3 separate regions of the Homo sapiens genome follow, and all the other regions are linked to region 1. Evidence: fine-mapped expression QTL. A gene starts in region 1. Each other region holds a variant in brackets. All regions are shown on one strand. Distances are between the middles of the regions.

The links. PIP is the estimated chance that this variant, and not a neighbour inherited with it, causes the effect.
Region 2: its variant is fine-mapped to the expression of SP100 in whole blood (TOPMed, PIP above 0.99).
Region 3: its variant is fine-mapped to the expression of SP100 in monocytes after LPS (Fairfax 2014, PIP 0.95).

What each region holds. Positions count from the first base shown.
Region 1 is chr2:230,409,995-230,421,187 of GRCh38, forward strand. It overlaps SP100 (SP100 nuclear antigen), which reads left to right and starts at 6,207. Exons shown (of 29, transcript NM_001080391.2): 1 at 6,207-6,334; 2 at 7,597-7,671. The coding sequence starts at 6,303. RefSeq lists enhancers at 1,762-1,851, 2,512-2,561, 5,854-6,373 and a silencer at 1,942-2,211.
Region 2 is chr2:230,452,770-230,460,769 of GRCh38, forward strand. The region is part of intron 8 of SP100 (SP100 nuclear antigen); the gene reads left to right. The region is part of intron 3 of LOC101928816 (a long non-coding RNA gene); the gene reads right to left. Among named protein-coding and RNA genes, the nearest start is that of SP100, 41 kb to the left of the region's middle. The variant T/C (reference allele first, on the strand shown) is at 4,825.
Region 3 is chr2:230,468,256-230,476,255 of GRCh38, forward strand. SP100 (SP100 nuclear antigen) reads left to right here. Exons shown (of 29, transcript NM_001080391.2): 14 at 788-841; 15 at 1,760-1,843; 16 at 5,069-5,185; 17 at 6,139-6,192. All of the region lies in intron 3 of LOC101928816 (a long non-coding RNA gene), which reads right to left. Among named protein-coding and RNA genes, the nearest start is that of SP100, 56 kb to the left of the region's middle. The variant C/CAAA (reference allele first, on the strand shown) is at 4,172.

The sequences.
Region 1 (11,193 bases):
GAATGAGTTTCCAACTTCAATGCCATTGTTTTGGAAACCAGCAAAACTGTGCCAGTATGTTGCCCAGAAAAACATCAGACCAGAACACCCTGGAAGCCATCTGCTCCCCAAAAAACTATTCTACCTGGCAGTTTTATAGCCCACCTGCCCCTGAGAGCCTTATCCCAAGGTAAGACACAGGATATCCAGCAAAACCTGGTTCCCAGGGCCACTTCATGACCTGGCCGGACCAGGCGGTCATCCTGTGTTAGTGGGCTGGGGCCCCATAGGATGTCAACCTGTTCCCTGAGCACAGCATTTGTACCCATGAGAAACAGGTGCACCAGTTAGGAGAAATGCACAGGGCTGTCCCACCAGTTCTGGAGTCATCCTTGGCCCTGGGAAGAGCTCATTAGACTTTATTTTGGATTTCCCCTAGAGCAGATGTTATGACTGACAGTCTAACAAGACCCACCTCATCCTCAAAACAGGGTCTTCTCAGCCCTTGCTAGGCAAAGGTGCCCTGGGAGAGCCCCCCAGTGCTCTGGTCAGCTGTCTCCCACCCACATTTCCAGGAGGAGCACCTGTGGAAAGGCAGACTCCACCCCTTCCCTGCACATCTCCGCCAGACAATGGTTGGCAGATGGGCATTGGCCTTTGCTGGAACTGTACCTCCTGTCTCATAACCTGTCTCGTAACCACTAAATCTTCATGAAGCTACACTTTCCAACCCTGCGCTTCCTTTATTCTGTTCAGCAATACTGAGGAACCTGCCAGGGACCCTCCTCTTCATAGAAGCACCCACTTGCAAGCCCAAAGAAGCAGAAGCTGCTGCCCAGCAGGTGCTGGTGGAGACCATCTGGAGGGGCCACCAGGTATCTCCTTCCCTCGCCACACATGCATCACCTGGCAGTCCTAAGATCTAGGACAGTCTGCGGGCCATTCCAGCTCACCATGGTAAAAGTAATAGACATATGGAGGTTTGCAGAAACATTAGGAGTGCAGACTTGGTAAAAGGCTGCATTGTTCATTCAAGCCTTTCCTGGCTCCAGCCCCAGCCACCAGGCTCCCTCCGCTCCTGGTGGTGTTCAGCCCTGCCTCCTTGGCACCCTGAGGCTCACAAGGAGACCCCAGGCCGACCACAGCTCGAAAGACATTCCTCCTCCTTTCTGAGGGTAGGTCTGACCCCGCAGCCTTAGTTCCATGCTTGTGGAGGCATCCAACATGGAGCTGCCTGGTTCCATATGTCAGGTGACAGCCCCAAGTCTAACGGGGACCCACTGGTGAACACAGGAAGGTGCCACCAGGAATCCCCAGAATGTGAAACATAGTGAGCCTGTAGGGTCGTTCTGTTGCAGTCCAGCAGTTGGGGCTCAAAGTGAAACGAAAGGGAAGGTGAAGCCCCCTCTCCCTCACTCAGGGAGACTGGGTTTCGGGGTGGGGGGCATTGACAAACTTCTGTGCATGAAACGCACTTCTCTGAAGTCTCGTGTCTTCTAATTCACTCCATGCCACCCGTTTTTGCCGTTTGCCCACTATTTTTTAATCCTTTCAACTGCTCAGCATCGAGTCATATCAGTGTGCCCCGCAAGGACAGCAGGAGTGTCCTGCAGGGCCTTAGGGTGCGGGGCAGGCTTAAGGGCTTCAGCCTCCGGGGAGGTGCAGAAGGCAGGGCGGCTTGTGGCTCCGGACGGAATGAAACTCTTAGGGAAGAGGACAGAGACCAGGAGGAGCGAAGGGCAGAGTCCCCCGCCCCTCACGGGCTGAACAGAGGGCAGGCGGCGACCCGGTGGTGCTCGTGAGCTGCCAGAGGGCAAAATGATCTCAGAACCCAGACCTTACATGGGTTCGACTTTATTTAGAAGGAACTACGGCTCTTCTACCACACAATTCGAAGTGTTTGGTGAGCTAGAATCCCGATAAGAGGAGGATTTTCGGTTTCTGTTTCTGCCCAGCCCTGAAGAGGCTGCAGCGCTACGCGCTGCCGGGAGACTGGGCGCCGGCCGGGCGGGGGCGGAGCCCGGAGGAGCGCGGGGCGGCCGCGGGAACGGGAACGCGGGAGGCGGACACGGGGGATGGCGATCACCGACCCCTGCTCGTTGCGCGTGCTCACGGTGTGTCCGTGGCGGGCCTCGCCGGCTAGGTGGCCTCGGAAAGGAGGCATGAGGTGGCGTCCATGGGCCACCAGGACCCTGTGCTGTCCGTCAGTTACCAGGGGACAGGGATCTGCGGATGTTCATCTGCGGATACAACAGGGGCTCAGCTGAAGGACCCTGCGTGATGATGCGGACTCAGGGGTGGCCCTGGGCCAGTCGGTTTCTTCCTGGTGCTGCACAAGGACTGAGGGCGTCCTCCGGATTTCTCATGAATGGTCCCCACCTTCAGAAGGTGGCCAGAGGGACTTCCTGTGTTGTCCAATGCTCCCCTTGTCTTTCTGACTCCCTACAATCCTTCACCCATAGCCTCTTTAGGCCAGTCACTGAGGCTCTGCTGAGCAGGGGACCCTGGTGAGTGGGCCAGGGAGGATCAGACCAGCCTGGTCTCACCCAACTTCCTAAAAGCTGAAATATTGCTACCAAATGCCCGCTGAGCCCGGGGGATAATTGCATCACAATCATGCAATTGCAAGGAGCTATGACCCCAGCCTCTACCCATCTGCGGCACAGATAGAAAAGAACCTCAGAAGAGAGATGTATACCCATGTGCTTGAACCCTTTGAAATATAGGCAAAATGGAGAGACAGACGGCGATCAAAATACCAGCTTTATTCCGGATAAAAGCTGGATTGGGGATGTGGCTTAGATATGTGGCAGTAAAGGGACCCCTAACACTGAACTCCAGAATTGGGCTTATCCGCATGGCCTCAGGCTGTTCCAACTCTCCCCCACGCTATGCAGGCCCCTGTCCTTGTGCACTTGAGCTTGGAGGAGCCAACAGAGTCTTGGTCTCTGCAGGCAGGATGACTCCAGGGACACCCAGCAAAGAGCAGGCTCACTCCCACTCCCAGTCAGAGAAGCGTCCCCTAGAAGATGGGCGGGGACCGGAAGGGACCGGGCCTTGACTGATTGATGTTCCACCTCCTAGAAGGAGACAGTTCGGCAGGACTGGGTGCTCCCACTAAAGATCCCAGGCGCCTGCCCTTCACTCGTCACTTCTACGTCCCTTGGAGGGTGGCCAGGTTCTCTATTCTCATGCCCCAGTGGCACTGTTCCTGTAGCTGCCTCCTGCCCTGAAACTCTCTGGTCCATGATGCCAATGACCTCATCTCAGGTACAGACCTCTGGTTCTCACATGGGGGTCCCAGGTTGAAGAATCACCCCCCACCATGTTACCAGTAGAGGGTCTTGACTGCAAGTTGTCCAGGTTCTTGGCGTTTTGAACAAAGAATTGGACAAAGCGCACAGCAAAGCAAGAAAAGAATGAAGCAACAAAAGAACGAAAGCAGGGATTTATTGAAAATAGAAGTACACTCCACAGTGTGGGAGCAGGCCCAAGCAGTATTCAACGGTCCCGCATACAGAATCTTCTCTGGTCCAAATACCCCCTGGAGGTTTCCCATTGACCACTTGGTGCTCACCTCATGTAAATGAAGTGGCGGCCTGCAATCAGTCTGATTGGTTGAGGAAAGCAACCAACCAGAGGCTGAAGTGAAGTTACAAAGGTCACACTCCTGTGCAAACATCTCATTGGTTGCAGAAAGCAACCAATCAGAGGCTAAAGTGAAATTACAAAGTTGTACTTCTATGCAAAGGAAGACTTGGCCTGCAATCAGTCTGATTGGTTGCAGACAGCAACCCATCAGAGGCTGAAGTAAAGTTACAAAGTTACACTCCTATGCAAAAAACAACTATACACAGGTACTTTCCATTTCCCATTGCCCCACAGAAAAGGTGGGGGTTTGCAAAGGGAGTAGCCTCTGGACCTTTTGTTACTTAGGCATGGAAAGTTAGGGTTTTCCTTTCAATTTAGTTCTAGGAAGTTAGCATGAAATGGCCTTAGGTTCCCTGCCTCCAGACCCTATTCTCCTGCCTCACCCACACCACTGAAGTCTGAACTGAAGCTGCTCTTGGTGAAATGTAAGAGGCCCATCATCTGGCTGGGTGCCCTGCCTGTGGTCCTTCCTCAATCACTGCCTCCCCTGCTTTTGAGTTTTCCAGGCTCCAGTAACTGGAACTACTTCTTGACAACAGAAATATTCCCTATTGCCTGTGCTCCTTGCAGCCATGGAAAATGCCCCAGGAGTTCCATTATTTCCTTCTAAACAGTCCAGCAGGATTTTTAGCTCACATGTCTTCTTAATGTGGTCCCGTCCCTTTCCCAACCCCAGTGTGTCTGACATTGTTTTCTGGATCAGAGAAACTTTGCTTTCTTCACAGAGGCCTACAGATTCTCCATATACCAGCGGAGCATGGTGCATGCTCATCTGTCTCCAACCTCATCTGATGAGAACATCTCCTTCCCTGCTGCCAGGAGGTGCCCCAGCATGGGCATGTCTGCCCGTGAAGTTCAACCCGTAAGGAATTCCCTGCCAGCCTGTGGCTCATTGGTCTGGAATTCCAGGTGCTGCTCTTAGTAGCCCCTAAGCACATCCAGGGAAAAGCTGGCACGTTTATGTCAGTGCCACTCAATGGCCTGAGCCTGCCTGCTGCCCAGAGGCAGCGAGAGGGGAGAACGTGAACCACACCAAAGCATACTGTGTGGTCCATGCCAGGACTTCTTGGGACCAATGTGCCTCATGGAGACTGGGATCAAAGGACAGCTGTGCCCAAAAGAGGCTCAGCTTACCAGCCCTTCAGCCCCATAAAGTCGGGGAGTCATGGGGGGTAGGAAGAATGAGAGAAAGAGAGAGAGACCTACAGGTGAGAGAAAGAGAGAGAGACCTACAGGTGTGCAGTGCCTGATAGAAACAGTGACCTTCGCCCACCGGCAAAGCTGTCCTCACCAATGTCCTGGTGCCTGGTCATTCACTCATGGGGAAAAGAAGAGCAGAAGTAGAGTGAGGGTAGAAAGCCCCTTCCCCCACATTTTCAAATGTACCTGGACAAGCATCCTTATTCACAGCTGGAAGAAGTTGGATTCAGTAGAATGCCATTTGGAAAACACCGTTCTGAAGTGCCATCCCCTCTGGCCCCTGAATCCTCACCAGCTTCCACCCTCTGCTCACCTTGGGCCCTGGATTCCAGCGCCCCCAGGCTCCCAGCTGCCTCCCTGTCTCTGCCCCATGGTCCGGCCTGGAGTTCTGGTCCCTGGTTGTGTCCTGTGGCCCCATTCTCATGCGCCCTTTGCTTCTGTTTCTTTACCTATGACTTTATACTGATGTAAAGCGAGTCTTCTCGGTCGCTTCTTGTTCTCTGAGGAATGATGAATCAGAATCTAAATGGAAAATCTGGGCAGAGATAGAACCTCCCGCGGGAGCCACCCTGCCCTTCCATGTCTAGATCATCTGGGTTCCAACCTCCATCCTCCTCCAATGAGAAGCTTTTGTTCTCTCAAGATTCCAGTGACTTCTCCGAAGCTTAGGTGTCTCTTCACCCCTGGCTGTTCCAAGGCGGCCCCATAGTCAAGATTCCTTAAACCCTTGCCCCTTAAAATGTTTGCCTTTCTTACCATGCTGGCTCCAGCCTCTGGTCCCAGGGGTGTGGAGAGTTCTCTCTTACTTCTGGCTGATTTCCAGGAAGGCTAAGCACACTCTCCCCAGGTTATAATGCTGAGCATTTTGGTTCTCTCCAGCCCTGGGTCCCAATGTCAGGACCTACCTTAGTCCAGTCCATGCTCTCCCATGGGCCTGAGAGAAGATTTGAGGTTTCTGGCTTTCCCTCCAACCCTCCAACTCCCACCCCAAGCCATGTCAGCAAGGGGAAGGGGCAAACATGGAGTTTCCCCCCCAACTCCCATGTAAACTATGCCCCCTCTTAGAGGGCAGAGCAGCTAAGGACAATTTTGTTTCAAGGACATTTTTTTTGGCTGTGTATTGCACAAACAAGTGGACACCCGGGAGCTGGCCCTGCTCGTCCCCTGGGCCCTCCTTCCCTGGTCCTGCAGGTCTTGCTGCTTGTCAGGCCTCTCCTCCAACCCTCTGCCACATTTCAGAAAAGCTGAGAATCCCTTGGAGTGAAAAAGGAGGAGAAACACAGTGTCCGTAGCCCAGAAGGAGGTTAAATACTTTCACTTCTCTTTTCCCCATTTGGGCGGAGCCCTTTCTGAGTCAGTCTGTCGGCCGACTTCCTGCTTGGGGCCTGGGCAGCCACACTGCACGCAGGCTGGGCCGACTGAGGGGCTCAGAGGCCAGGCTCTGAGGCCCACGCAGGGCCTAGGGTGGGAAGATGGCAGGTGGGGGCGGCGACCTGAGCACCAGGTGAGTCTTTATCTCCCTTCCTTTAACCTTTATCTCTGGCTATATTGCAGCTTTCATGCCTTTAGTTCAGTTTGTGCCTAAGGCTTCACTTTAATCCTTCTTTGCAAGAACATAGGTATGCGATGTTATATAATGAAATGAAAGACAAGTAATGAGGAAATCAGATTTTTTAAACAGGAGCAGGACAGCTGTTGGTGTGAGTTCAACTTGCCATAACACACGTGACTTTCTTGTTTTGGATTTACTGCTCAGCTGACCGGGACACTCTAAACATAGCAGTTGTTGGTGGCTGGGATTAACTATTTCCTCATGATCTGTGAACCCTTTCACCCCTCAGCCTTCCTCTACCTTCAAATATGTCATGTCAAAAAAGGTGCTTTAGAAAATAAACACTCCAGGGTAAACACCTGGCTTACTTTTAAACATCAGACGCTGTGGTCTCACCTGTCCTGGCAAGGGGCCTCTGCCGGCTGTTCCCATGACTGGCTCAGGGTCTGAGTTCTTATTCCATCAACCTTGATCAAAAGAAGGAAAGGGAAGAAAAAGGCCCAGGGTGACAAACGGCTAAATATTTTCATTTTTACCTCAATTTCCTGTCCCAAGATGGGGGATACCTCTGACCAGAAAAGAGAAGGAAATCCTAACTTTTCTCTAGTAGTGAGTTGAGAAATAACATTACTTAATCTTTTAAATTTTTTAATACAAAAGAAATACACTGTACATTATTGTTCATAAAATTTAAAACAGTGGAGAAGTATATTAAGGAAAAAGTCATCTTTGCCACTCAGCCATTCTTGTAGCTTCTCTTCCCAGTCCTGTGAAGAGTCTTGGGCACAGCTTTTCTTATATTTTTCTATGCATTTATATATCTAATGCATTTTTTGTAAATACGTAATTTATGTTCTTGATTTATAATAAATTATATTACATGTGCTAGTCTGCATTTTGCATTTTTACTTATTTTAATAGTGGAAAACTTAGAGATCTTTTAACCTTAATACATATAGATCTGCCTCATTCTTTTTATACATGCTATTCCATAGAATTGATATATGATAATTATTTATTCTCCAATTGAAGGACATTTAGATTGTTTTTAAATTGTTCACATTTACCAATAAGCTATCATAACAATGATTATATATTTCTTTTTGGGTTTTTACATCTAAACAAATATTTATCTTGTCTCTAAACCTTAAAAATGTAATTATTGAGGCAAAGGGTCCAGTTATTTACTTGGTCCTGCCAAATTGTCTTTCTAGGAGGCTGAATGAATGTATTTCACCAGTAGCAAATGAGATGAACCATCTTCCTGCACACAGCCACGATTTGCAAAGGTGATGAATGAAGAGTTATGTCTTGTTTTAATTTGTATTTTCCTTACGATGGGAAAATTGATCAGCTTTTCATGTTTCTTGGCCATTTAAATTCCCTCTTCTATAAATTGCTTGTTTGTTTTTTGCCAATATGATTCCGTTGAGGTGTTTGTCCTTTTTTTCGTGATATGGGAGAATTCACTAAATATTCTGTAAGTATAAATATACTTTTCTTGTCCATTACCTTTGTCTATGGTGACTTTTATCTTATTAAAGCTTAAAACTTAACATATAGGCCTCTTGTGATACAGATTTTTTTAAGATAGATGCACCCTTGTTATAAACGAGGTGATGCTGACACCCTCTGTGAGCACTCTTAGTTTTTACAATTATTTCTGTGTTAAGGTGGCAGATTCGCTGCTACCGCTATTCCAGGAAGAGTTCCTCCTCTAATATCTCTGAAAATTTTTTAAATTTTTAAACAAAAATATTCTTACATTGGAGCCACTTTAGCCTTCACAGCTTTTATTTGCCCCGTTTTCATCTTTTCAGTCTTTCACTTTGTGTTCATAATAGTTGTCTCAAACTTTTCCTCCATGACAATTATTTACCTTCTAGTAGGTTTCTTGTTTCTTGTCATTTCTAATTTTTTAAAAATTGATAGTGTTTATTTTTGAGGAGGGATCTTAATTGGTTTCTGTACGCCTGCAAGCTCCATAACCTCTTGTCATTCAGTCTTCACAGTCTTGCTTTATTTAGGTTTGCCTGTGCTGTTAAGAACTTTGGGATATTCTCCTTGTTGTCTCTTAGTTATTTTTCCAGACTGATTCTGTCTGATCTTGTGTTCCACGTGCCTGTGGTGGCTTTACAGCTCCTCTAGCCAGGCTTGGCCAGGGCAGGTCACCCCAAACTTCCCGTTTGCTTAGTCATAATCTGGATGAACTTTTTTTCTTTTTTTTTTTAACATTCCCTGTTTTATCTGAGATCAAATTGTTTTTTGTCTGAGCTACAGTTTGAAGTCTTTGTTTTGATTCTTATCAATTTTTCTGAGTTCACCGTTGATTGATTAAATTATCCTTTTCCCTGCTGATTCGCAGTGCTACCCTTTTTGGGAGTATAGAGGCAGGGTGTGCTTCTGTGTTCTCTCTTCTCTCCCCTTGGCCGGTGACAGCCCCTCCTTATGCCAGTACCACGCTGCCATAGTGATGGCAGCTTCCCAGGAACTCTTGACATCTGAGGGAGCAAATCTCTTCCTCTTCCTCCAGAATGTCTTAGACTCCCAAATTTGCCTGTCAAAATCTCGAGATTTTGTGTGGAACTGCACTGGATCTATAAATCAATTTGAAGAGAATGGACATCTTTACATTCACGAGACTTCCATCTCATGAATATGGTTTATGTATATTATTACTTTAAAAATGTCTCCTATTAAAATTTGTATTTTTCTCTCTGAAGGTTTTGCCCTTCTGCTAGATTCCTTCATAGATATTTGATATTTTTATGCCATTATTAACTAAAGTAGTCCTCCCTTATCAACAGTTTTACTTTCTGAGATTTCAGTTACTTGCAGTAAAACTTGGTCCAAAAACATTAAATGCAAAATTCCAGAAAACAATTCATGAGTTTTAAGATACTTGGCGTTCTGAGGAGTGTGATGAAATCTCATGCTGTCCCTCTCCATCCTGCCCAGGATGTGAACCATCCCTTTATCCAGGGTATCCACAGTGTAGACACTACCAGCCCATGAGTCGCTGAGTAGCTGTCCTGGTGATCAGATCGACTGTCCTGGTATAACAGAGCTTGTGTTCAAGGAACCCTTATTTTAGTCAATAATGGCCCCAAAGCACAAGAAGGTTGATGCTGGCAATTCAGATATGCCAAAGAGAAGCCGTCAAGGGCTTCCTTTAGGTGAAAATGTGAAATTTCCTGAAAGAAAAAAATAATATGCTGAGGTTGTTAATATCTACAGTATGATGTTTTGAGAGACAAAAAGAGACCACATTTACATAATTTTTATTACACTACATTGTTATAGTTGATCTACTTTATTATTAGATATTGTTATTCATCTTTTATTGTGCCTAATTTATGTACAGATTGGGGAAAACATAGTATATGCAGAGTTTGGTACTATCTGCGGTTTCAAGCATCCACTGGGGTTCTTGGAAGCATCCCCTGTGGATAGAAGGGAACTAGTGTGCTAAATTTTACATATGAATTTGCGTTGGTGACCCATGATCTGATCCATGGTTCTATTTTCATTCTTGTTTCAATACTGAAATGTTTTAGTTACTATGATTTTATAGGTAGTGTTCTGTAACCTACCTTACTGGGATTGAATTGAGAGACACTAAATGAACAGATAAATTTAGGAAGAATTTATGTTTTAAAAAAATCCTGAATGGCCCCAGTGAGAAACATAGTAAATCTCTCCATTTATTCATGATTGTTTGAACTTGGGACCTTGTTGGGTCGCTTTAGTTCTAGGCATTTTAAAATTGTATTTGTAAACAGGAATTCATTTTCCTTTTACATTTTCTAGTTATTTCTTGCTGGCATAAGGGAAATCTATTCATTTTAGTTAGCTGATCTTGTGCATAGGAGTCTTACTAAGTGGTCTTCTCCCTCTTAATATTGTCTTGTGTTTTTCTGGAGAAATAATTACATCTTCAAAGATAGTAGCAGCTTTGTCTCCTCTTTTTCAGAATTTATACCTGTATACTTTTCTTTTTCTTTCTTTTTTCTTTCTCTTTTGCCTTAGCGCATTAGCCAGGACTGCCAGTGTAATACTGAATAGTAACAGTAAAAATGAACATTTTAGTTTTATTCCTGATTTCAAGGGGAATACTTATAATGTTTAAATTGAGGCTTTCTTATAGACACCTTTTTTCAAGTTAAGGACATTTCCTGCTGGCTCTGGTTTACTAAAAGTTATTTATTTTAATCAGGCCTGTGTATAGGATATTTATCAAAATGCCTACTAAAGAATCTTTGAGAATTGTATCATTTTTCTCTTTTAATCTGATTTATCCACAGTAAATTATATTGAAACATTTTATTAATTCGGTTATTAATTTCACCAAAGTAAAACATATATATATATATAGCTTAAAGTATCAGTCAATAAGACCTTTAAAAACACAAGTAGTACTTTCTGCCATCTTCCCAGCCCATGTCCAGTTTCCCTAATGGATTAACTTTTTGGCTCTTACTTTTGTATTTACTTCTGTATTTTGAAATGATGTGCTGATACAGCTCTTTGTAATTTTTCAAGTTTCAGACATTAATCTGTTCACATAATAGGACAGAAGATGAAGACTTTTTCCATAACACTCCTTTTCATTCCCTGTCCATTCTCATAATACATCACAGTTGGAGGTTCATCAGTAATCAGTGTTACCATTATGATGACTATTTACATGTTGTTCATAACCAAGTCATCTACTATATTATGATTACATTTCCTTTCCTGTGCAACATCCTCCCGCCCCTCCCCGCCGACCCCACAAATAACTATTGCCCTCTTATATATTTGCTTGGATT
Region 2 (8,000 bases), 41 kb after region 1:
TGCGTTTGTATCCTGCCACTTTACTGAATTTGTTTATTAGTTCTAGCAGTTTTTTTTTTTTTTTTTTTGGTGGAGTCTTCGGGATTTTGTATATATAAGATCAGGTCATCTGCAAATAAGGACAATTTAAAACTTCTTCCTTTCCAATTTGAATGCCTTTTATTTCTTTTGCCTGCCTAATTGTTCTGGCTAGGACTTGCAGTAACATGTTGAATAGAAGTGAGAATGGGCAATCTGTATTGGTCCATCCTCACACTGCTAATAAAAGACTGGATAATTTATAAAGGAAAGGGGTTTAATTGACTCAAGAGTTCAGCATGGCTGGAGAGGCCTCAGGAAACTTACGATCATGGCAGAAAAGGGGAAGCAAACACGTCCTTCTTTACATGGCAGCAGCAAGGAGAAGTACAGTGCAAAGGGGGGACAAGTTCCTTATAAAACCATCAGATCTTGTGAGAACTCACTCACTGTTGTGAGAACAGCATTGAGGTAACTGCCCCCATGACTCAATTACCTCCCACTAAGTCCTTCCCATGACATGTGGGGGTTATGGGAACTACAATTCAAGATGAGTTTGGGTGGGGACACAGCAAGACCATATCAGCATCCTACTCTTGTTTCTAACCTTAGAGGGAAATCTTTCAGTTTTTTGTCATTAAGTATGGTACTAGCTGTGGGCTTGTCATGTATGGCCACTATTGTCCTGAGATACATTTCTTCTATATCTATTTTGCTGAGAGTTTTTATCATGAAAAAATGTTGAATTTTGTCAAATGCTTTTCCTACATCTATTGAGATGATCATATGGTTTTTGTCCTTCATTCTATTAATGTGGTGTATGACCCTTTAGATATGTATATGTTAAACCATTCTTGCATCCCAGTGATAAATCTTATTTGATCATGGTGTTTAATGTGCTACTGAATTTGATAGTATTTTATTGAGGATTTTTCATATACGTTTATCAAGGATAGTGGCCTATAATTTTCTTTTCTTGTAGTGTTCATGTCTAGCTTTGGTATCAGGGTAATGCTGGCTTCATAAAATGAGTTTGGAAGTAGTCCCTCTTATTCAATTTTTAAGAAGAGTTTGAAAAAGATTGCTATTTGTTCCTTAAATATTTGGTAGAATTCAACAGTGAAACCATCTGGTCCTGAACTTTTGTTTGGTGGGTGGTATTTTATTATGGATTAAATCTTACTCATTATTGGTCTGTTCAGATTTTCCTGTTTCTTTGTTATTCAGTCTTGGTAGGCTGTGTGTGTTTAGGAATTTATCCATTTCTTCTAGGTTATCCAATTTGTTGGCATTAAATTGTTTATAGCAGTGTCTTATGATTCTTTGTATATATGTGGTATGAGAAAGGTAGTGTCTCCTCTTTCATTTCTGATTTTATTCATTTGAGTGTTTTCTCTTTTTTCTTAGTCTAGCTAAAGCTTTCTCAATTTTGTTTATTTTTTCAAAAAGCCAGTGCTTTGTTTTGTTGATCTCATTTTTTTCTAGTTTTGAACTCATTTATTTCTGATCTGATATTTATTGTTTCCTTCTTTCTGCTAATTTTTGCCTTAGTTTTTCTTCTTTGTCTGGTTTCTTGAGGTGTAACATTAGGTTGTTTGAGATCTTTCTTCTTTCTTTATGTATTCTTGTGTTTATTGCTATAAACTTCCCCTCTTGTAACTGCTTTTGCTATATCCCATAAGTTTTGATATGTTACATTTCTATCTTCATTTGTCTCAAGATTTAAAAAATTTTTTCCCTTTAATTTCTTCATTGACCCATTGGTTATTTGGGAGTGTACTTAATTTCCATGTATTTGCAAATTTTTCAAAATTCCTCGTTATTGATTTCTAATTTCATATCATTGTGGTCAGAAAGTATATCTGATATAACTTCAGCCTTCTTTACTTTGTTAAAACTTGTTTTGTAGCCTAACATATGATGTATCCTGTAGAATGTCTCATGTACAATTGAGAAGAATGGTACTTTTCTGCTTGTAGATAAAATATTCTATATATGCCTTTTAGGTCCTCTTGGTCTAAAGTATAGTTTAAGTTTGATGTGTTCTTATTGATTTTCTCCCTGGACAATCTGTCCACTGCTGAAGGTAGGGTGTTGAAGTCCCCTAGTATTATTGTATTAGTCTCTCTTTCCTTCAGATCTATTAATATTTGTTTTATATATTTAGTTGCTCAAATATTGGGTGCATATGTTTACAATTGTTATATCATCTTGATAAGTTGACTCCTTCATCATTACATAATGACCTTCTTATTTTCTTTCTTTCTTTTTGTTTCTTTTGTTTTTTGTTTTAGTTTTTGTTTTGGAGACAGGGTCTTGCTCTGTCACCCAGACTGGAGTGCACTAGTGCAATCATGGCTCGCTGCAGCCTCAACCTCCTGGGCTCAGGCAATCCCCCCAAGTAGCTGAGATGACAGGCATGTACCATCACATCTGACTAATTTTTTTTAGTTATTTATAGAGACAGGATTGCCTTATGTTGCCCAGGCAGGTCTCAAACTTCTGGGCTCAAGCAATACTTTCACCTCAGCCTCCCAAAGTGTTGGGATTACAGATGTAAGCCACCATGCCTGGTTTTATCATGACCTTTTTTGCCTTGTTTTATATTATTTGATTCAAACTGTATCTCATCTGACGTAAGTACACCTGTGCTTTCTTTCTTTCATTTCCATTTGCATGAAATATCTTTTTCTATCTTTTCACTTTCAGTCTATGTGTTTCCTTAAAAGTGAAGTGAGTGTCTTGCAAGCCACATATACTTGGTTCATGATTTTTAAATTCATTCAGCCACTCTATGTCTTTTGATTGGAGAATTTAATTTATTTACACTTAATATAATTACTGATAGGTAAGTACTTTCTAAAACCATTTTGTTTATTGTTTTCTGGTTGTCTGTAGATTCTTTATTCCTTTCTTTCTCTCTTACTGTCTTCCTTTGTGATTAGGTGATTTTCTCTAGTGATACACTTTGATTCCTCTTTATCTTTTGTGTAATCACTGTAAGTTTTTGCTTTGTGGTTAACATGAAGTTTACACAAAACATCTTATAACAGGCTATTTTAAGCTGATAACAACTTAATTTTGATTGCCTACAAAAACTGCACTTTTACTTTGCTCCCTCATTTAAAATGTTTGATGTCAGAGTTTACAAGTTTTATATAGTGTATACTCTAAAAAATTATTGTAGCTACTATTTTTTGACTATATATTTACTTTACCAGTTAGTTTTATACTTTCTTATATTTTTATATTATTAGTTAGCATTTACTTCTTTCAGCTTGAGCATTTCTTGTAAGACAGGTCTGGTGGTAATGAATGTATTCATCTTTTGTTTTCCCGGGACGGTCTTTATCTCTCCTTTATTTCTGAAAGACAGCTTTGCCAAGAAAAGTATTCTTGGTTGTCAGGTTTCTTTTTCTTCCTTTGGCACTTTGAATGTTTCATCTCATTCTCTCCTTATCTGTAAGGTTTGTGCTAAAAAGTCCACTGTTGTCCTTATTAAAACTCCCTCATATGTTAGTTGCTTCTTTTCTTTTGTTGCTTTCAGGATTCTCTCTTTGTCCTTGAATCTTGACAGCTTGATTATAGTATGTTTTGGTGTAGTCGTGTTTGCACTGAATCTGATTGGAGACCATTGACCTTCTTGTACCTGGAAATTTATGTCTTTCACCAGATTGGCAAAGCTTTATACTATTATCTCTTTAAATTAACTTTCTACTTTTGTCTTTCTCTTCCCTTTTATGAATTCCTGTGATTCAAATATTTGCTCTTTTGGTGTGTTTCATAAATCCTGTAAGCTTTCTTCATGACTTTTCATTCTCTTTTCTTTTTCTTCTCTGATTGTATTTCAAATAACCTGTCTTTGAGTTCATATTCTTTCTTCTGCATGATCAATTCTGCTGTTGATGCTCTCTGATGCCTTTTTAAATTTCATTCATTGTATTTTTCAGCTCCAGAATTTGTTTGATTTTTTAAATAATTTCAATATCTCTGTTAAACTTTCTCATTTTGGTCATTTATTGTCTCCCTAATTTTAGTGAATTGTTTCCTATATTTTCTTAAGGTTTGCTGAGATTCCTTAAAACAATTATTTTGAATTCTGCATAAGGCAGTTTGTTATCTCCATTACTTTGGGGTCTGCTATGGGGAGATTATTGTGTTCTTTTGGTCATGTTGTGTCTCTTTGGTTTTTATGTTTCTTGTTGCCTTACATTTATGTCTGTACATTTGAGAAAGTAGAAACTATTCTAGTCTTTGCAGGCTGACTTTGTCTGGGAAAGCCTTTCACCCTATTTAAAGATTCTAAGATGGCCATCTGGCATGGTACAAGGGCAGGCTTGCTGCTAGAGTCCTCAAGCAGGCTAGTCTGGTGCCTAGGACAACCAGTGGGCAGGTCTGTGCTGGGGGAAACCTTGAGCCAGAATCTGCAGGGCTCTACACCACTGATGCAGGCTTCTTCAGGCACTTCAGTAGGCATGAAGCCCAGTGCTATTGAAGCCAGCTTGCTGCTAGGATGGGCCTCAAGCCCAGTGCCACTTGGTCCAGTTTGGCACTCGGTCTGGTCTGGATCATGGGTTCACTGAGGCTGAAATAGTGCTGTAGGAGGCTGAAGACTGAGTTCGCAGGGCTGGCCTGAGTCCTGGGGCTGCAGGATTTAGGTTGGGGTCAGAGTGAGCTTGGAGGTTCAGACCATGGGTACTGGCTAGAGTCTGGGGCTTTGGGAGCTGGGTTTTACTGAAGTCGGTTCTGTGGTTTGGGTGTAAGGCAAAGTCTGGTGCTCACTTCCTTCTCCTTTCCCCAAGCATA[T/C]TGTATCTTGCTCAATGCTGTGCTTCCTGGAGTTGGGGAAGATGACACAGTGAAACTTTTCTTCCTGCCCTTTTCAATGTGCTCTTTCTTATTTCTGTGTTTCACTCAGGTGCTGTGATCTTTCATCTGGTTTCCTCAGCTCTTGCAAAGGTATTTTCATGCATAGGTCGTTGTTCACATCAGTGTTTCTGCAGGGGATGGAGGGCTGGAGAGTCCTATTCTCCCATCTTGCTCTACTTCTCCCCAATTTTCTAATTATATCTTTATTTTTCTATAAGGGCAAAACTTCCCTTTGTTTTCTCATACTAACTGCCTACACTCATCCAAGACACACAGACTTTGTTCACAGCCTCTGGCTGCTTTTAACAGGTATGAGATGGAAGGGAAAAAGAGAGTGAGTCTTTTTAACAGAGGGACTGTCCCTGGTTAGAGAATGCAAGAAGAAAGAATACAAAAGAGGTCAACTAGGGAATATTAAATAACAAAACACAGTTGACCCCTGGACACTGTGGGAGGTTAGGGGTACCAATGCCCCATGCAGTCAAACATTTGCACATAACTTTTACATTCCCCAAAACTTAACAACTGCTGTTGACCAGAAGCCTTACTGATAACATAAACAGATGATAACACATATTTTCCATACGTATTATGTGCTGTATTCTCACAATGAAGTAAGATCTCCAAAGGAAAATGTTATTAATACAATCATAAGGAAGAGAAAATATATTTACTATTCATTAAGTGGCAATAGGTAATCATAAAGACCTTCATCCTCATCATTGAGTAGTTTGAGAAGGAGGAAGGAGAGGAGGGGTTGGCCTTGCTGTCTGAGGGGTGGCAGAGGTGGAAGAAAATCTGCATACAAGTGGACTCATGTAGTTCAAGCCCCTGTTGTTGAAGGGTCAACTGTGTATGAGTGAGACAGATTTTAGATAAAGTGACATGGTATCCATACATTGTCATGTTGTGGAGTTGTTGAATAGAAATATGTTGCAAGTTACTTTTCAGAAGTTATCATGAAAACGTAGAAATTATGCATGATGCTGCTTGTCAGATTTGCAAAGGAAGGAAGCCCAGGTGAAAGACCTTCAGGAAGGAATGGCAAGTGGAGGGCCTCTGGTGTGGTAGACAATGGCACTGGAAGAGACCTTTCGTAATGATGGGAATGTTTGAGATGAGGAAGATATAGAAAGACAAAAAGTGATATAGCACTCACACATCAGATGCGAAAGTATTTTTGAAAAAAAAGTGACATAGAAGAAGCTTGCAGAGGTAACGTTAATAATTAAGAAATAAGGGCCGACTCAAAGCAGGTAGGAAATGTAACAGAGATGCAACATTACATATGGGACAACAGGCCTGGCACGAGGTGAGGCAGGGAGGCCCCCAGGGCACAGCATGTAAGGAGACCTCACTTGGCATGTGAGACTGAGCTTCCTTAAATTTCAAGGCACCCCATAGCACCACCTTCACCTCACCCTGGTTCTGTCTCTAAGAGACAATAATTTTTAAAAAGTGTAGATAAAAAGACTATGAATAGAAAAAACATAGAGGGAAATAAATACCAAGAAATAGGAAAAATGGAGGGAGGCACAAAGAGAAGTATGCAGAAAATGAGTTAAAGGACAATGAATGAAAAATTGGTAGAGAGTGGATCATGCAAAGAAGGGAAGAGAGAAGACAAATCAAGACATTCTCTGATCTGAGGAGATAAGAGCTAGAAAGGAGGCACAGGGTGTCCTATTACTATGGAGAAAGATCAGCTGCCCTCTTATCAAAATGGCCCCTGTGACTCCACCTCCACCCCCAGATTACAATAAGCCTCTCCTCAGGCATCACTTCCTCTCCATGGCTCAATCACCATCTAAGATCTGTTGATTTCTAAACATACATCTCCAGCTCAGACCTGTCCTGTTGACTCCCTTCCCCAATTGCCTGAAGACCTTTATTTAAAGACCTGAAGAACATCTCTCTTTGGAAGCTGCATCTGTCATCTATTGCTGTGTCATGTAACAAACTATCCTGAAACTTAGTGGCTTAAAACAATCATCATTTCATTTGCCACTTGTGTCAATCCCAACTTTAAAATATCTCTAACTTGTCCATTTCTCTTCATCCCCAGCACGAACACCCTAATCTAGACCCCTGTCACTCTCACTAAAATTAGAGGAACAGTCTCCTGTCTGGCCCCCAGTCTTGCTCCTCTCAAGTCTGCACTTCAGTTGAATGGACTTTTCCAAAATAGAAACCAGTTGATATGACTTTCCTGTTTGAAACCCAGTGCCTTCGTGTGGCCCTTAGCAGTAGATCAACACTGCTTGGAGTGGTGAATTGAAGGATGTCTACCACGCACCTGCGCGTTCCCCGTCACCCACCTCTCGCCCTTTCATGCCACATTCCCACCACACTAAGCTTCCTTTACTTACTGGAATTTGCCAAGCTCTCTTTCTTTCATCTCTGCCTTTATATATGCTTTTGGGAAAACAGTTTGGGGTAATCTTCCAAAGGTGAAAATATACATACCCTATAACCCAACAATTATATTCCTCAGCAGAAACCAACAGAAATGTGTGTTATGTCACCAAAACACATAGAAAAGAATGCTCAAGGCAGCATTATTCATAGAAGCCAAATGCTTGAAATTGTACAAATGAATAAATAATTCATGGCTTATTTCTATAATGGAATACTATCTAGTAGTGAAAATAATTATACAAAACGAATACAGATGACTTTCACAAGCATGTTGAGTAAAATATCCATACAATTTTGGGGGATTTGGCTTCTTTTGGGAGATCTATATATATTGAGAGAGAGGTAAAGGGAGAAAGAAAGAGTGGAGAGAAAAGAGATTATTCCATTTTTATAAATTACACAACAAGCAAAATTAACCTTAGTGTTGGAAACCTCAATGGTAGTTGTCTTTGAGCAAGTTAGTGGAAACAGTTAATGGGAAGTGTCACCAGGAGGTGTCTGGGGTATTGGTAATCTGTTTCTTTTTTTTTTTTTTTTTTTTTTTTTTTTTTTTTTTTTTTTTTGAGACGGAGTCTCGCTCTGTCGCCCAGGCCGGACTGCGGACTGCAGTGGCGCAATCTCGGCTCACTGCAAGCTCCGCTTCCCGGGTTCACGCCATTCTCCTGCCTCAGCCTCCCGAGTAGCTGGGACTACAGGCG
Region 3 (8,000 bases), 57 kb after region 1:
CAGATGTACTTCAAAGTTCAAAAAATGTTTTATTATTTTAGAAAGACAATGTGGTTTATATTCTATATACAACAAAATACCCTAGTAGGATCCAGGGAAGAATCCCATTCTCAAATATACTAATGTTTATACAGCAAATTATATAAATATTCACACCAAATATGATAAGATTTTACACGGACTCATGGCAACTCAAGTCCAGATTCACTGCCAAATTAGTTAGCTGCAAACCTATGAAAACAATACTGGTTATTAAAATATCTTTGAGGCCAGGTGTGGTGGCTCACGCCTATAATCCCAACACTTTGGGAGGCTGAGGGGCTGAGGCAGGTGGATCTTTTGAGCCCAGGAGTTCAAGACCAGCCTAGGCAACATGGCAAAACCCCATTTCTACCAAAAAATGCAAAAAATTAGCTGGGCATGGTGGTGGTGCATGCCTGTAGTCCCAGTGATGTGGGAGGCTGAGGTGGAAGGATCATTTGAGCCTGGAAGGTCAAGACTGCAGTGAGCCAAGATTGCACCACTGCCCTCCAGCTTGGCTGACAGAGTGAGACCCTGTCTCAAAAAAAAAAAAAAAAAAAAAAAAGTCATTGATTTTGCAATTAGGGCTAAAGGATTGTGGGTCTGTGCTCCATTTGATAGTAATCTCTTTCCCTTAGATGGGAAGAGACAGAAATGATCCTCATAGAATATTTATAGTCCAAATTCTGTCAACAGTGTAAGCAGTCATAAGATTTATAGATCTTTTAGTTAGATATTATTGATTTGGTTTTCCTTTACTTTCTAGCTCCTATGACTTCTAGAAGTACATCTACTTGGAGAATACCCAGCAGGAAGAGACGTAAGAGCAATTAAAAACTCTTGATGTAACAAATGTCTTTATTTGCTGCAAAAGCTACATTCACTTTTTATGTTATATCCTTTAAAATAAAAAATTAATTTGTTGGGATTTTAGATGATTTGCATTTTACATTTTCAATTAGATGAGTTGGGCTGGTATAAAACATAAGCCTCAAAATGTTCAAAGGCACAAGTGCAACATAAGTTTATTTTTCACTCACATAAATAGGATAAAGTAGTTCCTGAGTAGAGGGGGTGCCCACACAGTCATTCAGGGCCCAGCTGATGGGGGCTCTGACATCTTTAAGATGTTGCTTCCATGGTTCCCTTGGATAAGAAACTGAGATGGAAGCAGAAGTATGTGCAAACTAATAATGAAAGCCTAAGAAGCGTAAGAAACAACGTTGTCCTAGGATTGTATTCAGAAAAGATTGAACATTATGTATGTTCCTTTTATTTGATTATGCATGAATGAGATAGGAGAAAACGATGGAAGGATCCACACTGATCTGTTGACTTCACTAGCTGGGAGACCAGAGACAGAATAGGGTAGGAAAAGAGAGCTTTGGGGTTATATACATTTGCATTCATTGGTCTTCTTATGACAAGCATATATTGCTTTCTTAATTTGAAACCACCCAATGAAATGGATGATTTATAATAAATACATATTTTTCCCAAAGTTAAAAAAAAAAAAGAAGAAGAAACAATGTCATCCCCAGCCCCAGCCTCAGAGAGGGCTCCTGGAGCAATCTTGACCAACAGGTCAGATGATCAAAGCCAAAGGGTGGCCTAGTGGTGGGACTATTTCTCCCCCTCCTCCACAAGCTTCTCTTGTTCAGTTTTGCTTTTAAAGAATTCCCTGCTGATTCCTAAGACTCAGACTAAGACTGTTAAGGAATTTTATTTTTTTCTGCAGGTTTCAGCAGTAGTGACTTTTCAGACCTGAGTAATGGAGAAGAGCTTCAGGAAACCTGCAGCTCATCCCTAAGAAGAGGGTCAGGTAAAGAAGATTAGGATGCCAAGACTTGGCCTGCAGAATGTCAGGAATGTGAATTAAAAGCTGCTGTTTCCAGACGCTTTTTATTCTGAGCACCTTCACTACCTTGTATCCAGTTCATCTGGGAACTCCTTTTTGCATTTTAGAAAATGGAAAGAGGCAGGAAATTATGATAAACTCATGTTTAACAGAAAGAGTTTCACTGACTAAATGTATGTAATTATATTTTGTTGTTGTAGAAGAAATAAATAGCAAATTTGTGGTATTCTTTTTTTTAAACCTGCTCTCATTCCTATTAACACTAAGATCTTAGATTTTTATAGTGATAAATGGGTTGACATCATTGTCATTTGTAATTGTAAAGCCTCAAAAGACAACTGTTCCTACTATGTAATTATAGACAGAAATAAAAACTTCAGATCAAACACTCTCAAACGTTAGTATAGTTTTTGGTAGATGTCCTTCATCATGTAATTGGATTATATTGTGTTATTTCAATGTCTTTTGGCAAATAATATCTTATTTTGTCATCACAAAATTTTTAAGACATAGGCAGGCTAACTATACCCATTTTGGGGTGAGGAAATAGATGTACAGAAGTATTAGGGCCAAAAAACTAAAGAAACAATAGAAACTAGCAACCCAGGTGTCTCACGGTGGGTGACTGTTGTATGTAACAGACAGGAGGATAAGAGCTGTGTCATTTAAGTCAAAGTCCAAAGAAGATGCGCAAGGAACTCAGAATATTCACAGGAGACTATACCAGTGCCTGATGCAAGAAAGCTTATTTAACAACCACTGTGTGTGTGTGTGTGTGTACACATGCATATATTTGTTACATATAACATGTATACATACATAAACACACACATATGTGTGTGTATATATGTATATTGGTTAATACATATAATCTTTAGGGGGAGGGAAAAATAAAAATCGCAAACAGACAGAGATAATAGGAATGGAACCAGCTATATAATATACAAAATACCTAGAAAGACAGAAGCAAAATAGATAAACATAGAAATAAAGGAGAACAGAACATCATTGATGGAAACAGAAAAAGCAACACAGGAGACAAGATAAATCAAAGGGAGATGAGCTCACCGAATCAAAGAGACAGAGACAAAAATGTATAGCAGCAGGGCAATGGGCAGAAAAATGAGAAGTGAGAAGGAGAACGAAGTGTGGCCAGATAGAGTAGGGCTATGAGGTGTACTCATTGATATAGGTGTATTTTTTTGTCAGTCCGTTTAAGCTCTGAAAATAGTTCAGCATGACCACATTGAGACAGGTTCCCTGGTTTCCTCGTCACTGTCTATAGTCTATTATTTCCTTGTTTGTCTTCATTGTCCTGTGAATTTAGAGCTCCTCCAATGAATACACAAAGAGAGTCAGAAGAGATGCAGCCCATTAGCTTGTGATGGAGAAGCCGATTATGATGTTCAGTTCATTATTAATTATCTTTTTTTTCCTACTTGCATGGAGGAAAAGTTCTTTTTTCTTTTCCTTACCTCTCCCCCAAAACATATGCACACACACATACACACCACACACACAAAGACTTGTGCACAGACTCGGGCTGCTTGCGACAGGTTTGAGGGAGCGAAAAGAAAAAGAAGAGCTGGGCTCCTGAATGGAGGGAGGAGACACTGAGTGGATAAAGTAAGGAGAAAGAATGGAGAAAGGTAGGCTAGAGTCACCAAATGAAAAGATATAAGAGTCAGCTTCAAGTTTTTCTAAGTGGACAAGGAATTCAAATATTCCAGGTAGGGGAATTTTGTGGGGGAGGGAGGGATAATTTTCAACACACTTCTCAGAAATTGTACCAGAAACGTGAAAATAAAGTTGCTGATTGATTGACAGCCTTGCAAGGTAGAAAGCTCATAAAGAACAGACAAAGGTAATAGAGATGGCTATGTGGTCAGTGTCCTAACAGCAGGCATTTGGTGATGAAAGTAATAACCTGTGAGATAAAGATGAATATAGATGAAGAAAATGTGGATAAAGACAAAGATTGAAATTGCAAAAAGAGTCAAGATCAAGATAAGGGCCAGGCGCAGTGACTCATGCCTGTAATCCCAGCACTTTGGGAGGCCGAGGTGGGCGGATCACGAGGTCAGGAGATCAAGACCATCCTGGCTAAAACGGTGAAACCCCATCTCTACTAAAAACAAAAAAAATTAGCCAGGCATGGTGGCAGGCAGCTGTAGCTCCAGCTACTCAGGAGGCTGAGGCAGGAGAATGGCGTGAACCTTGGAGGCAGGTCTTGCAGTGAACCAAGATCGCACCACTGCACTCCAGCCTGGGCGATCGAGCAAGACTCCGTCT[C/CAAA]AAAAAAAAAAAAAAAAAAAAAAAAAGTCAAGACAAGATTCAGAGAAACAAGCTAGAAGAGAGAATAGAAGGAGGAAGTGATAGTAGAAAGAAGTTCACCTCAATAATAAAACTAGATCTAAAGATATAAACAGAAAAACAGGTGGAATGAGATACATTCAAAGGGTGATGAGTGGTGTAAAAAATTAGGTACAACAAGAAGTATGTAGAGAAAGAATTAAAAGATGAGAGAAAAATGGAGGCAAGAAGGGGGAAGTGTAAATGGGAGAGAAGAGAATGATGGAGAAATTGTAGGATCTGAAATGACCATGAGATAAAAGCAACTTTAGCACAAGGCATGATTCACAATAGCAGTAAGTTTTCAGAATAAGGTGTCCCCTGGCCCCTCTGACTCACCCAGATTAAAAAAGGCCTCACCCAGGCATTTCATCCACTCCTGTGATTTCAGTCACCACCCACAACCTCATGATTCCTACATGTGTATCTCCAGCCAGCCCTGTCTTCTAAACTCATTCATCCAAGTGTCAGAAGGCTCCTGTTGGAGATTCTGAAGGCCTTAGACTTCACCACTTGGATGTTACTCAAGACCTTCAAACTTAACACCTCCAAAACTGAGCACATCATCTTTTTCCCTAAAACCAGCCTTTGCTCCTCCAGTGTTCTTCATCACTGAAACAAACTATTAATTGACCCTTTATTTCAAGATGAAATTCTCAGGGTTATTTATGAACAGAAGGGAAAAATACAGTGAGGAACCACAAAAGAAAAAGAGATTTCAGATGTAGAGCCCATCCCTTAATTTAGCTGTGGGGAGTGGGCAGTCACTAATGTTGGGGGGAAGGAGAATCTTTGAAGGGGAGTGGGCACAAATAAAAATGTTTACAAATCACAATTTAGGATCACAGCCACAAGAACCTGAAAATAAGAAGTGCTCCTGTGTCATGTGTTTTCCAAAAGGTGTGCCAAGAAGCCAAGAAGCAAGGACTGAAAGTAGTCAAGCATCTGACATGATGGGTAAGGCTACCCTAGGGTCTTGGGATGGAAGTGGCTCAGTGGATATCACAGACACTGGGTAGGGATGTGGGAAGTGATCAGAGTTGAAGCAAAGCATGAAACAGCCTCTGGATCACCAACAGGAAGTGGGCCCACAGGCCCCAAGCTTCAGAATTTCAAAAGTCTGAAATCATAGTCCCGGTTTCCTGCTGCACTTGACTGTGAGCAGACTGTGACAAAGAACAGGTTTGGTGCCGCCAGAATCCTGTTCTCTACATTTGCTTAACCCGACCCTTTTGGGAACTGCAGGGAGGCAAGAGATCATTATAAAGCCATATTTAACAGAATGGGCTCTCTTGGTTAGGTGGTAAAAAAATACACTGGTAAACATAGTAGTATCTCACTATATTAGCATATCAATAGTAAAGTGTTGAATTTATAAAGCGAGTTCCATCCTTGTTCTTGAAAAAAAAAAAAAGAAAACATGTTCTTCCACTCACAGGTAATAGTGTCATTTTGTCACAACTTTGGAAAGGCCTAAAAAGACAAATAGTCCTGCTACCTGTCAGGAAAGAAAAATCAGATACCTACTCTTATGCTAAAAATACATTGTTTTGAAAGATATCCTCTGGACTGTTATTGATTTATATAGTGATTTCCTATTAACTCTTGCAAGTAAGATATTTAATATTCATAAAAATTTTAAAGCTGAACAGGATAACCGTTGCTGTCCCTGTTTCATAAATGAGGAAATTGGTGCATAAAAGTAATGAAGAGCTGTTTCAAAGTCTCAGAGAACTAGACGAAGACCTTAGACATCAATTCAGTGTCTGTTTCCTTTGGAAGGAAGACAGATAAATTATACTCAGAATATTGTTATAAACGCAAGCCTTCCATGCAGTGTGAATTGTCATAAGATTTATAAATTTTACTTATAAATTACAGTTCTCTGACCACTACCTGTCACTTTCTAGATACCATGGATGTTGAAAACAATTCTACTTTGGAAAAACACAGTGGGAAAAGAAGTAAGAACAAATAAGAATTTACTTAATTTTTATGTTACAAATGAACTATTTTTTAATGCTAAGGTTTATTATCATCATTTTCTTTTTTCAACTTTTATTATAGATTAAAGGGTGCATTTGCAGGTTTGTTACATGGGTAAATTGTGTGATGCTGAGGCTTGGTGTCCCAAAAATCCCATCACCCAGGCAGTAAGCATAGTACCCAACAGATGGTTCTTCAGCCCATGCCACCCTCTCCCCCTGCCCCATCTAGTGGTCCCCAGTGTCTCTTGTTCTCATCTTCACATTTATGTGTATTCGATGTTTAGCTTCCACTTGTAAGTAAGAACATGCAGTATTTGGTTTTCTGTTCTTGCATTAAGTTGCTTAGGATAATGGCCTCCGCTCCATCCATGTTGCTGCGAAGGGTGTGATTTCATTCTTTTTATGGCTGCATAGTATTTCATGGTGTATATGTGTGCCACATTTTCTTTATCCAATTCACTGTTGATGGGCAACTAGATTGGTTCCGTGTCTTTGCTTTTGTGAATAGCACTATAAGGAACATATGAGTGCGTGTATCTTTTTGATAGAACAAGTTATTTTCCTTTGGGTATATACCTAAAGGTAGTGGGATTGCTGGGTAGAATGGCATTTCTGTCTTTAAGTCTTTGAGGAATTGCCACACTGTCTTCCACAATGGTTGAACTAATTTTACCCTCCCACCAACAGTGTATGAGCATTCCTTTTCCTCCACAACCTCACCAGCATCTGTTATTTTCTTGACTTTTTAATAATAGCCACTCTGAGTAGTGTGAGATGGTATCTCACTGTGATTCTGATTTGCATTTATCTGATGATTAGTAATGTTGGGCATTTTTTTCATGTTTGTTGACCACTTGTATGTCTTCTTTTGAGAAGTGTCTGTTCATGTCCTTTGCCCATTTTTTAATTGGATTTTGTTTTTTGCTTGTTGATTTGTTTAAGTTCCTTGTAGATTCTGGATATCAGACCTTCGTTATATGCACAGTTTGCAAAAATTTTCTCCCATTCTGAAGGCTGTCTGTTTACTCTTTTGGTAATTTCTTTTGTTGTACAGAAGCTATTTAGTTTAACTGGGTCCCACTTGTCAGTTTTTGTTTGAGTTGCAATTGCTTTTGGAGACTTAGCCATAAATTCTTTGCCAAAGCCTATGTCAGGAAGGGTATTTCCTAGGTTTATTCTAGGATTTTTATAGTTTTAGGTCTTACATTTAAATCTTTAATCCATCTTGAGTTAATTTTTGTATAGGATGAGAAGTATGGGTCCAGTTTCGTTTTTCTTCGTATGTCTAGCCAGTTATTCCAGCATCATTTATTGAATAGACAGTCCATTTCCCATTGCTTATTTTTGTTGATTTTGTTGAAGATCAGATGGTTGTAAGTGAGCAGGTTTGTTTCTGAGTTCTCTGTTCTGTTCCACTGGTCTATGTGTCTGTTTTTGTACCAGTACCATGCCATTTTGATTACTGTAGCCTTATAGTATAGTTAGAAGTTGGGCAACGCGATGCCTCTAGCTTTGTTCTTTTTGTTTACAATTGCTTTGGCTATTCAGGCTCTTTTATGGTTCCAACTGAGTTTTAGAATAGATTTTTCTAATTCTGTGAAAAATGACGCTTTTATTTTAATAAGGATGGTGTTGAATCTATAAATTGATTTAAACAGTATAGTCATTCAAACTGTATTGATTCTTCCAATCCATGAGCATGGAATAATTTTCTATTTATTTGTGCTATCTCTGATTTCTTTCAGCAGTGTTTTGTACTTCTTCTTGTAGATATCTTTCACCTC